3 linked regions of the Homo sapiens genome follow. The protein of the gene in region 1 purifies or fractionates together with the protein of each later gene. This does not show direct contact. Each region holds a gene or a part of one and is shown in the gene's direction. Other genes may lie near its edges.

The links.
Region 2: the proteins of BGLAP (region 1) and POC1A purify together in Homo sapiens (affinity purification with mass spectrometry; one large-scale study listed by BioGRID and IntAct). This does not show direct contact.
Region 3: the proteins of BGLAP (region 1) and SEH1L purify together in Homo sapiens (affinity purification with mass spectrometry; one large-scale study listed by BioGRID and IntAct). This does not show direct contact.

Annotation. Positions count from the first base shown.
Region 1 is NC_000001.11:156,240,896-156,243,817, forward strand, and holds BGLAP (osteocalcin preproprotein), read left to right. Parts: upstream 1-1,288; 5' UTR 1,289-1,336; coding exon 1,337-1,400; intron 1,401-1,657; coding exon 1,658-1,696; intron 1,697-1,866; coding exon 1,867-1,936; intron 1,937-2,137; coding exon 2,138-2,267; 3' UTR 2,268-2,422; downstream 2,423-2,922. Other genes in the region: PMF1-BGLAP protein, read left to right, coding at 1,658-1,696, 1,867-1,936, 2,138-2,188. UniProt on the Homo sapiens protein: Bone protein that constitutes 1-2% of the total bone protein, and which acts as a negative regulator of bone formation. Functions to limit bone formation without impairing bone resorption or mineralization. It binds strongly to apatite and calcium.
Region 2 is NC_000003.12:52,136,528-52,140,923, reverse strand, and holds part of POC1A (POC1 centriolar protein homolog A), read left to right. Parts: intron 1-2,621; coding exon 2,622-2,755; intron 2,756-4,396.
Region 3 is NC_000018.10:12,982,511-12,986,906, forward strand, and holds part of SEH1L (nucleoporin SEH1), read left to right. Parts: intron 1-7; coding exon 8-165; intron 166-1,529; coding exon 1,530-1,680; intron 1,681-2,729; coding exon of another isoform or gene 2,730-2,742; exon of another isoform or gene 2,743-4,351; coding exon 4,352-4,396. UniProt on the Homo sapiens protein: Component of the Nup107-160 subcomplex of the nuclear pore complex (NPC). The Nup107-160 subcomplex is required for the assembly of a functional NPC.

The DNA of each region.
Region 1 (2,922 bases):
CCTAGTGAGAGCCTTGGTGAGGTCTGCTGGAGGCACACTGGGGACACAGGCAAGCATCAGGTGGTCCCAACTTCCCACCCCCCTCCCATAAACGGCACTTGGCTCAGTCTCCCTCTGCCCACCTTGTCACCATGGAGCTGTGGCATTCAAGCATCCAAATGCCCTGCTTCTGTCAGGCCTGCCCCGTCGGGTGCTTTGTTTACTTGTCAGGTTGGGCAGATGGTCTCAAGCCCTGGTTGGTGGGTGGGTGAGTGAGGAGACAGGTTAGACAGGGGAAGGTCCCAGGACATGTCTTCCCTCTCTGGGCTGACCTGAGGCAGTGGAGGCTCTCAGGTGTGGGATGGGGTTTTCAGGCTGGGATGTTCTGTACCGTAGAGGATAGGCCTTCCTATTACTTATCGGAGCACTACGGGAGGGCAGGTCCCTCCCCAGGGTGTTTAACACTGGAGGCTGCAGGGTCAGGAGGAGAATCGTGGGGCCAGGAGGGCAGAGGCACACTCCATCTTCGTGCTCCTCACAGGCCCTGCCTCCCTGCCTGCTAAGGACACAGGGAAGGGGGTCCCCACCTCAGTGCCTGCCTCCCTTCCCTGTGCCTGTGTACCTGGCAGTCACAGCCACCTGGCGTGTCCCAGAAACCAACCGGCTGACCTCATCTCCTGCCCGGCCCCACCTCCATTGGCTTTGGCTTTTGGCGTTTGTGCTGCCCGACCCTTTCTCCTGTCCGGATGCGCAGGGCAGGGCCTGAGCCGTCGAGCTGCACCCACAGCAGGCTGCCTTTGGTGACTCACCGGGTGAACGGGGGCATTGCGAGGCATCCCCTCCCTGGGTTTGGCTCCTGCCCACGGGGCTGACAGTAGAAATCACAGGCTGTGAGACAGCTGGAGCCCAGCTCTGCTTGAACCTATTTTAGGTCTCTGATCCCCGCTTCCTCTTTAGACTCCCCTAGAGCTCAGCCAGTGCTCAACCTGAGGCTGGGGGTCTCTGAGGAAGAGTGAGTTGGAGCTGAGGGGTCTGGGGCTGTCCCCTGAGAGAGGGGCCAGAGGCAGTGTCAAGAGCCGGGCAGTCTGATTGTGGCTCACCCTCCATCACTCCCAGGGGCCCCTGGCCCAGCAGCCGCAGCTCCCAACCACAATATCCTTTGGGGTTTGGCCTACGGAGCTGGGGCGGATGACCCCCAAATAGCCCTGGCAGATTCCCCCTAGACCCGCCCGCACCATGGTCAGGCATGCCCCTCCTCATCGCTGGGCACAGCCCAGAGGGTATAAACAGTGCTGGAGGCTGGCGGGGCAGGCCAGCTGAGTCCTGAGCAGCAGCCCAGCGCAGCCACCGAGACACCATGAGAGCCCTCACACTCCTCGCCCTATTGGCCCTGGCCGCACTTTGCATCGCTGGCCAGGCAGGTGAGTGCCCCCACCTCCCCTCAGGCCGCATTGCAGTGGGGGCTGAGAGGAGGAAGCACCATGGCCCACCTCTTCTCACCCCTTTGGCTGGCAGTCCCTTTGCAGTCTAACCACCTTGTTGCAGGCTCAATCCATTTGCCCCAGCTCTGCCCTTGCAGAGGGAGAGGAGGGAAGAGCAAGCTGCCCGAGACGCAGGGGAAGGAGGATGAGGGCCCTGGGGATGAGCTGGGGTGAACCAGGCTCCCTTTCCTTTGCAGGTGCGAAGCCCAGCGGTGCAGAGTCCAGCAAAGGTGCAGGTATGAGGATGGACCTGATGGGTTCCTGGACCCTCCCCTCTCACCCTGGTCCCTCAGTCTCATTCCCCCACTCCTGCCACCTCCTGTCTGGCCATCAGGAAGGCCAGCCTGCTCCCCACCTGATCCTCCCAAACCCAGAGCCACCTGATGCCTGCCCCTCTGCTCCACAGCCTTTGTGTCCAAGCAGGAGGGCAGCGAGGTAGTGAAGAGACCCAGGCGCTACCTGTATCAATGGCTGGGGTGAGAGAAAAGGCAGAGCTGGGCCAAGGCCCTGCCTCTCCGGGATGGTCTGTGGGGGAGCTGCAGCAGGGAGTGGCCTCTCTGGGTTGTGGTGGGGGTACAGGCAGCCTGCCCTGGTGGGCACCCTGGAGCCCCATGTGTAGGGAGAGGAGGGATGGGCATTTTGCACGGGGGCTGATGCCACCACGTCGGGTGTCTCAGAGCCCCAGTCCCCTACCCGGATCCCCTGGAGCCCAGGAGGGAGGTGTGTGAGCTCAATCCGGACTGTGACGAGTTGGCTGACCACATCGGCTTTCAGGAGGCCTATCGGCGCTTCTACGGCCCGGTCTAGGGTGTCGCTCTGCTGGCCTGGCCGGCAACCCCAGTTCTGCTCCTCTCCAGGCACCCTTCTTTCCTCTTCCCCTTGCCCTTGCCCTGACCTCCCAGCCCTATGGATGTGGGGTCCCCATCATCCCAGCTGCTCCCAAATAAACTCCAGAAGAGGAATCTGTGGGCCTGTGAGTCTGTCCAGTTTATGGAGTGTGGGAGGGAGGTGTCAGGAGGATGGGGGTGAGGAGGTTTTACCTTCTTCAGTTCTAGAAAGTGCTTTCCAAAGTTTTATTTTTTTATTTGTACCTGCCTTGTTCCAGAAAACGTTGAAGGTGGCTTCCCAAAGTCTAACTAGGGATACCCCCTCTAGCCTAGGACCCTCCTCCCCACACCTCAATCCACCAAACCATCCATAATGCACCCAGATAGGCCCACCCCCAAAAGCCTGGACACCTTGAGCACACAGTTATGACCAGGACAGACTCATCTCTATAGGCAAATAGCTGCTGGCAAACTGGCATTACCTGGTTTGTGGGGATGGGGGGGCAAGTGTGTGGCCTCTCGGCCTGGTTAGCAAGAAGCATTCAGGGTAGGCCTAGGTTAGTCGTGTTAGTTCTTCCCTGTGCTGAGCAGAGACTTCCAGAAGCACCAGAAACGGAGCCAGATGAAAGGACCCC
Region 2 (4,396 bases), on another chromosome or scaffold:
CTCAAGGCATCATGATAGAAGGCTCATGCCCTCATGGGACAGCCTAGCCTTCGTGGTAGACTCTCATGCAGGGGTGGTTCTTACGATGAGGCCTCCATAGACTACCCGCTCCCCACCACCTCCACAGAGGCAAGAGGAGTGAGAGTGGAGGCTGGTGCGGCCAGTAGGTGAGGCAGGAGAGCAAGTGGGGAAAGGTGGGGTGGGTCCTGGTGTCTGGGGTATCCCCCAAAGCCTGGTATGCCAGGCCAGCCCCTCTTCTGGAGTAAATGGTTCTAGGTGTTTCTATCCAGGCTTGGGTATTCCTGGCATTTATGTGGAGTGGAGATTCTGTTGCCCTTCTTCTGGGAGAGATTCTTTCCCTTGGATGGGCTTGACCAGGTGGGGGCCCCTGGTGTGGCATCCATACACTGACCCTGCCACCTTGATGGTGCTGGGAAGCCCAGAGCTCCCTGAGCATGCCCTCCCTTCTGCACCCTCCTGCCACCGGCTGTTCCTCTGGCAGCTTCTGCTCATGGAGGGGTGGAGGTGGCCTTCATCCCAGTGCAGACTTTCTGGTGGGGGGGTCTCTGAATTCTGCCTCCAAGAGCTGGCTTCAGAGACCCCACTGGTCCCTCTCCAGCCTGCCTCCTGGAGATCCTGGCGCTTGGAGGGTGTTGTTGAGATATAAATATCATGTTACGTAAAGCCTTGGCTGTTTCCCCCTAAGTGTGCCTGGGAACACGTATCCAGACTCCCCGGCACATCGGCACATCAGCTGGGCTGGCATCTGAGGGACTGCGTGCACCCTGTGGGCCTTGTTGAGGGCCGTTTCGTGTTGGGTGTGTTTACCAACCCAGTAGTGGTTCTTACAGCCTTTCAGTGCTAAGATGACGGTTGGTTTTGAATCTGCCTTTATGTTGGTGGCAATTCTGACTTGGCAGGGTCATGGTTATTTTAGCCCCACTGGTTTTCCTCATTGGGCCTCTGGTAATGGGAAGAAAGACACTGGGGTTTTCCTCAGAAGGCACCCTAGGAGGCTGTGATACAGCTGATCCATGCATTGGCTGTGGAGTTGCTCTGTCCCCACGTAGACTGCCCAGGTGTGCCCCCAGCTTCACCTAGAACATGCTCTTGACCTTGAGGGAGAGTTGTGTAACCTGCTGGGGCTTCTGGATACCCAGCTTAAGCACCTGCTCACCAACCACTTTCTGAGTCCTGCTCGGTGCCAGGGACTTACCACCCCTGCCTGATGGAGTTCATGGTCTCATGGGAGATCCAGATGTGAGTCAGATAGTTGCATGTGAATGTGAAGAGTGAACCGATGGGAGGCTTGTGCTGCTTTGGAAGGACAAATGAAGGGGGTGGCCCTAATTGGGAGGCCAGGGGAGGCTTCCTGGAGAAGGCAGCTTCCAGTAATGAGCTTTAAGGTCAGGGAAAGGGAAGGGCAAGAGTCTCCCAGGCCCATTGGAAACAAGGGGTAAAAAAGTTCTACGGCTGGGGGAATCGACAGAGCTGGGGTGGCCGGCTCTTGGAGAGTGAGGGACACCAGAAAAGATGGTGGGGTTAGCCTGAGATGGTAGGGAAAAGAGAGTCATGGACAGGGCCAAGCTGTTGAGTGGGTGAAGTGGCAGGACCTTGAGTTGCATGGAACACAGGGGGCAAAGGAGAGGAACATCCATGTTGGCATTGGATGGCTCACTCTGCAAAGACCTCATGTGCTTAACTTAGTAGCATCCGCACAGTACCTCTTACACATAGGTGCTATGGTACAGATGGAGAAACTGAGGCTCAATGTGGTTAAGATGCTTGCTCAGGATGGATGTGGTGGCTCACGGCTGTAATCTCAGCACCTTGAGAGGCCGAGGCAGGTGGATCATCTGAGGTCAGGAGTTTGAGACCAGCCTGGTTAACATGGTGAAACCCCATCTCTACTAAAAATACAAAAATCAGCTGGACGTAGTGGCACACCTGTAGTCTCAGCTACTCAGGAGGCTGAGGCAGGAGAATCTCTTGAACCCAGGAGACGGAGGCTGCAGTGAGCTGAGGTCGCACCACTGCACTCCAGTCTGGGCGACAGAGTGAGACTCTGTCTCTCAAAAAACGTCATGGGGTGAGCCCAGGCAGGAGGCTTGGGGTCCGAATGCAGGCCTGACTGCTTCCTAAGAGTGTCTTAGCTTTCTGCTCGTCTGCCCCCACACACGTCCTTCCTGTGTGGCAGTGGCATTGTATTGACATTTGAAGGGTTTTGTTTTCCATTGGTTTCTTTAAAGAAAGAGTATATCGGGCAGACCAAAGGCTATGTTTGTATGTTTGAGTACTCTATTCTGCTCCAGCTTGACCGCTTGGTGCTGTGGGAGAGGATGGAGGAATCGTCTGCTGCCTCTGGTTTTTGCATCTGTTTCTGTCCGCCTGTCTTCCACTGCCTGCCCTTGGCTCTGAACAGGCCTTTTCCTGTTCTTCGATTGTGCCCCTCTCCTGGGAAATCCTTGTTGGGTTCCCCACAGCTCTTCTGAGCAATGACCATCCTGACCCAGCCCCATCAGGCCTGTGCTGAGCCTCGATTGGCCCTGATTGCCCGTCTTGGGCTTCAGCTGTGCTCCCTGTGCCTCCTAGCCAGCACCTGACTGATGTCCTTCCCCCAGTGCACAGTGCAGCAGTGAACGGGCTCTCTTTCCACCCGTCGGGAAACTACCTGATCACAGCCTCCAGTGACTCAACCCTGAAGATCCTGGACCTGATGGAGGGCCGGCTGCTCTACACACTCCACGGGCATCAGGTGAGAGGTGTCGGCCAGGTGCTGAGTGGTGTGGAGTGGTGGTACCTTCACTGTCTGGGCAGTGGGCAAGATGCAGAAACAGGCTTGTCACCCACACAGCCTGCAGGGAGATGGATGGAGGCATTTCCATGTGACCTGGGCAGATTGCTGGGCCTGGGACTGGTGCAGCTGAGAAGGGTATATAAGAGTTGAATTGGGCAAGGGTTGGGGGCTGCATCTGGGCATGGTTAGCAAGCCGCCCCTTAGGGGCCTGAATGGAATCTGTCCCCTAATGGCCTCAGCCATCCCTTGGTCCAGAGGTTGAGTTGAGCCTTGGAACCCATGCTCTGAGTTGACATCAGGGTTTCCTGGAGGCCCTCGGACTGGCAGACATCAGTGTGTCTAGAGACTGAGGCAACCTCAGGTGTCTTGCAGAGGCTGGGACAAAGAAGGGAAGTCTTCTTCATGTTTGTCGTTTGAGAATTCCTGGAATGGAATCAAGGAAGCAAAGGCCTCCTTTCTGAATGAGCTTCAAAGCAGCCGGTTCCCTGGTCTCCCTGGGTGGGCTGGGTCCCTGGGGGCCGGCTGTGGGAAGTAGGCCACATGCAGTTCTCCCCAGGAACTGGCCTGGGTCCGGGCCTTTCACATCTAGTACTTCCACTAGGAAGTAGTGTCCGAGCCCTCCTGATCAGAGCGGTCGTCAGAATGTCTCCTGTTGGGGCGTAGTCACCATGCCCACTTGAGATGGGAGGTCTGGAGTCCATTGAATTCAAGTCTGTCTCTAATCTGCCTGCCATGCTGAGGGAGGCCCTGGGGGTGCTTATGTGTCTTGGACTATCAGCTAAGTCTGAGGTGTCTAGCCTGGTGTTTTCTGAGCTGTTGTTTGGGTTTCCACTGCCATCTGAGTTAGGGTACCTGGGGGCCATTTGGCTATGACTAGGGGATGGGGACATAGGCCTTTTCTTCTACTTCCTCAAGGTCTGGAGGCTGCTTGCTGCCCCCAGCCTTGTTGTGACCCCTTGCCTTCCCTGTCAGAGACATATCCAGTGTGCAGGACTAGTGGGCCTGTTCTCCCTGGGCCAGCACATCCAGAGGGGGTGGCTGCTGGCCCTGGTGTAAGCCTGTTCACAAGCCAAGCCCCTGGACAAGCAAGTTATACAGATTCATGTGTAACCGTTTGGGATCTTATGCCCAGGAGGGCATTTGAAAATCATGTGAATGCTGCTACCGCTCCTGCTCCCCTAAAAAAAACAAAACAAAACTCAGAAACAGTTTGAAACAGATGCCTATCAAGTGATCACCTCTTTTTGTGAGTGTTCTTTAAACAGCTAACTCACGCTTAGCCTGAAAACACTTGAATGTGGGATCTAAAATGTCATTCCCGGTGTTCTGGCATCGCATCTGGCACATAAACGAAAGCTATTGACATTGTTCTCTCCGGGAAGTGAAGCAAGGACCATGGCGCATTGCCTTGTGTGGTCACTTGTCTGCTATTAAATCTAGAGATATGGGAACCAGGCCAAGGGACAGCTGATGGTTTGGGGTGTGGATAGGGCTGGGTCATTTCTTCTTCAGGGCACCAGGCTCACAATGCCCAGAGGAAAGGAGAAGAAGAGAAACGAACCAACGACCTCTGTTCATTTTGCCATCTGTCTGTTTGTT
Region 3 (4,396 bases), on another chromosome or scaffold:
TTAACAGGAAAGAACTGACTTCCTCTGGTGGGCCAACAAAGTTTGAAATCCATATAGTGGCTCAGTTCGATAATCATAATTCTCAGGTCTGGCGAGTGAGTTGGAATATAACAGGAACGGTGCTAGCATCTTCAGGAGATGATGGGTGTGTAAGATTGTGGAAAGGTAAGAGTTCAGTGAAGGGGTAATTGTTGGTTTATATTTCTGCTCTGCAATTTTTACTTAAAATGTAAACTCTGAAATATTTTTTGAAAATGGTCTTTTACAGTTACTTTTAATGTCATATTAATTTATGTTATTTTGAACATCAGTTTACCTAGTTCATAGAAGTTAATGACTGAATTGTTTTTTAAGTTATGTGGAACAGAGCAGTTTTCAAAACTAAAGTAATTACAACAGAATATGCAATATCTCCAATAAAAAGATACCAGTTGTCATATATGTACCTTACATGACTGCTCTACAAACTCAGGCTAGGACTGTAGTGGCTCCTTTTTTATCAAATAAATTGCTTTAGACAATCCATCCTTAATAGGAGAAAATCCAGTATCTTCCCTGCTTCTTCTCTGCAGCTCCCATAAGTTAAGAGCCTTGGGGGCCCTGATTGTAAGTTTCTTCTAAGTGCCAGGCTGAGTGAGAAGGTCTGGTCAGTTGACACTGACTGTGGTCTCTGTAGCTTGGTTCTGCACTTCTCCTTGGATGATTATCCATTAGGCAGAGATGTCTGTGATTTGTGCACCACCATAGAATGGTGTCCCATACTTAGCATTCAGAATTATAGCTATCTTTGTTTATTTGCCATTTAGCAGTTATTGTTTCCCAAAGTGCAGTTTGGGTAAGCTTGAGGGCCTCCCATGTTCAATTTTGGGCTTTGGTAAAACCAGCCCAGACCTTCCTTTCCTCAGTGTAATTTGATTTTAGGGGCTTTGCTGTCCTTTTCTGCCTTTAGGCTTTATTCAGGACCACCTTGCCATGCTCCCCAGCAGGGTGCCTAACTTGATTTTCTTGGGCTCATTGTCTTCAGAGACCAATTTTTCATTCAAACTAATAAGGCCATTTTGGATAAGCCACTGAAGCTCCAAAGGTTTTGTTACCTACATCCATTTCAGAAGACATGATAGGTACCCTTATAACTTATACTTGCATAATTAAGAAGACAACTTCATTACCTTACATACATATGTAAGTGAAATTCATTATAATGAAGACTTTAATATTATAATGAAGATTTTAATATTAACTTCATAATGTGGTAGCTCAGAGAATTGTCTTTGCTAGTATCTGTAAGATGGGTGGTGAAAGCTTTATATTTTTAAAATTAGTGATACTTTGAAAACTTCTAAAAAGTTGTTAAAACTGAGATAATATGTCTTTCATTTAAAAAGTGTCTTTAATGTTTATCCTGAAAGAAATGTAGCTCATAGCCTCTGTCTCGTTTCTTTAATTGTAGTTTAAGGACATGGGTACAGATTTGTGCCCTTAGGCATTGGTATTAATCATGTTAATGTATTTGATTATTTTCCTTTCAGCTAATTATATGGACAATTGGAAGTGTACTGGTATTTTGAAAGGTAATGGGAGCCCAGTCAATGGGAGTTCTCAGCAGGGAACCTCAAATCCTTCCCTAGGTTCAACTATTCCAAGTCTTCAGAATTCATTAAATGGATCTTCTGCTGGCAGGTAGGCTGCTTCATGGGAAAACTGGAAATCATCTTTGTTTTAAATCATTCTGGTAGCCATACTTAAGGTGGATTATTTCATGGATTATAAGATGGAGTGGAAATGTTCACATGTGCTTGTATTAGCATTTAAGAATTCATTTTGTTAGCTATGTATTTGGCTTACTTGGTCATAATATTTGCAGGTAGGTTATGAAGTCATTACATTATATTCTGAAGCTTTAGTGGTCTATTGGTAGAAATGTTTACAGGTTTAAGATTCAACTTTGCTTCCGCAACAGTGAGAGGAAGGTTATCTGGTTTAATGGTGAGAGTTTTAGTCCAAATGAACATTAGTGTTTTTTAGTGCTTGTAGTGTGGTCTTTGCATTAGGTCAAACTGAAATTTTAAATAAAATACATTTCTTAAGGCTTTCTAGAAGAGGGTACATTAAGTTATTTGGCTTTTGTGTTTAAAACTTTAATAGAAATAAGAGGAAATAATAAAACACGAGATTGATTTTTAGAATATTTAGCATATGTTACATTCTTGTATATCATAATAAGGAATATTTGATGTCATCTAGAGTCTGTTTCCATGTTCAAATTTTAAATATGTGAATTTGTAAGATAAAATTATTTTAATATGCCTTTGTGAATAATTTGGAATAGAATTCAGGAAACGTCAAAACACAGCCTAATGAATTGTCCTGTGGTTATATCCTCTTGTTATCCTATATAAAAGAAGAAAATTGTATTTAAAATTTCAACTATTTTTATATTGTTATGTTTTCATAAAGAAGTTCTGCTTTTGATTTTGAGGTTTTAAGTACATGCATCAAAACAATTTCAGGTTACCGTGGAAGATACCAGATTATAAAGATTATTTCATGAAACAAATAATATTAGAGTTGATTTTTTAAAGTCTGGTTTTTGGTCACTGCCTGTACTGCATATTTTCTTTTGTAAATAGCTTCTATTTTTTGATCTGTATTCTTATTGTGCCAATAACCATCTGTGTTAGATCTGTGATGCATTTTCCCTTTTCCATTTGTATTATGTCCTTTAACAGAAAGCACAGCTGAGTACAAGCTAACTGGAGTAACTTTGCTGTTTTGCTGCTTGTTGCATGCACACAGGAATGGAAAGCGAGCTCCTTTTCCCCTTCCCCAGCGCCGTTTGACCTCTCCCAAGATACACCAGCAGCCTGCTTACTACTAAACGCAATCCAAAAGGCCTTTAAAAATACAGTGTATATTTTTTGTACTAGTCAGTTTATTGACACTATTTGAAACTTTTGAAATATAAACGGAGAGGCTTTCTGTTGAGACATTGTCACCAAAACAATTTTTTGAAATGTTCCTGAAACTAATTTGGGTTTAAAGATTAAAAGGGTTGTTACCATTCTTATCTGAGTAGTTGGGAGGAGGGGAATACCACTTTAGTTCATTTGGAAAATATAGACATATTTCTTTTGCTTTCTTAAAACAGCTTAAAATGATGAACTTTTATAATTTTAATTTGAAGATTGAATAAATATTTTTTATAAAGATTGTTTTGAGTGCTGATTTGTTTACTTTTTGTAGATTTGCTTTATCCATGATATTCAGTACAACTCTGTCATTTCTTTGTAATATTTAAAAAATATTAGTAAAGGAGTGAATTAATAAAGTAGTAATAGTAAAATGAAAGGAACTTGACTGTACAGTTTGTAGCCAGGTTAAGCATTTGGTATTGTTTCATTTACAATTTGGGACTAAGATGGAAACACTTTTTTTATAAGTTTTTAATTCATAGTCACTAAAGAGATAAATGTTTCTTATATACATTTGTGTATTTTTATGGTGTTATTTATTCCATGGCTTAGCTTCCTTCAAATCAAAATTTGGACACACACTATTAAGAGAAGCCATTAAAATTTTACTAAAATTGTGCATGTAAATTAATTGTCAGCATTCCATGTCTCAAGATTTTCTTAATTTAGTTCGCTGTTTAAATTAATTCATGTCCTGTAAAGTTCTGACCTTGATAACAAAGCTATAAATATTTAAGTTTGCTAATATGCGTAAGTATTATCGGTAAGTTACAAGATGGAAGAAGAATAACAGTAGGGCACAGTCATTCTGTGAATCCTTTTACTTATCAAAATTTGGTAGCTATTCTAAGGCTTTTGCAGAAAAATAAGTGTTCAATGTTTGTAGTTCTTCAAAAGCATGTTGCAGTAGCCAGCCATACTATGTGTATTCCCAGTATCATGTACGCACTAAAAAAAATGTGTGCTTGCTGCTGCTGTGAGTGAACCATTGCTTAAGATAAAAAACTTAACTAGATCTGTAAATGTACAGAATAGCATCAGATGTTTCTGAGAGATTAGAAAATGTTTTGAATTTATAAAATTAATGTTTTTCTTTGTAACATTTATATATATTTTTTAACATTTTAAGTTTAACAGATTGTATTCCTTTCAAGTTTCTATACTTGCTTAAGCAATCTTGATTTGAGTAAGGGTCTTGATTTGTGCTATTATGTTCTGTTAGTTTTGGCATGAATATACTAAAGCTTTTTTTTTTTTTTCTAGCATGTGTTTTCTCCTCTTTGGTTCTCTTTGTATTTACTACTTTTCTCTTTTTCTTGTGTTTTTTTTTTCCTGTTTTTGTTTTGTTTGGTGTTTTGTTCCTGTCTTCATTGTTTCAGGTATTTCTTTACCCCTCTGGATTCCCCACGGGCTGGATCGAGATG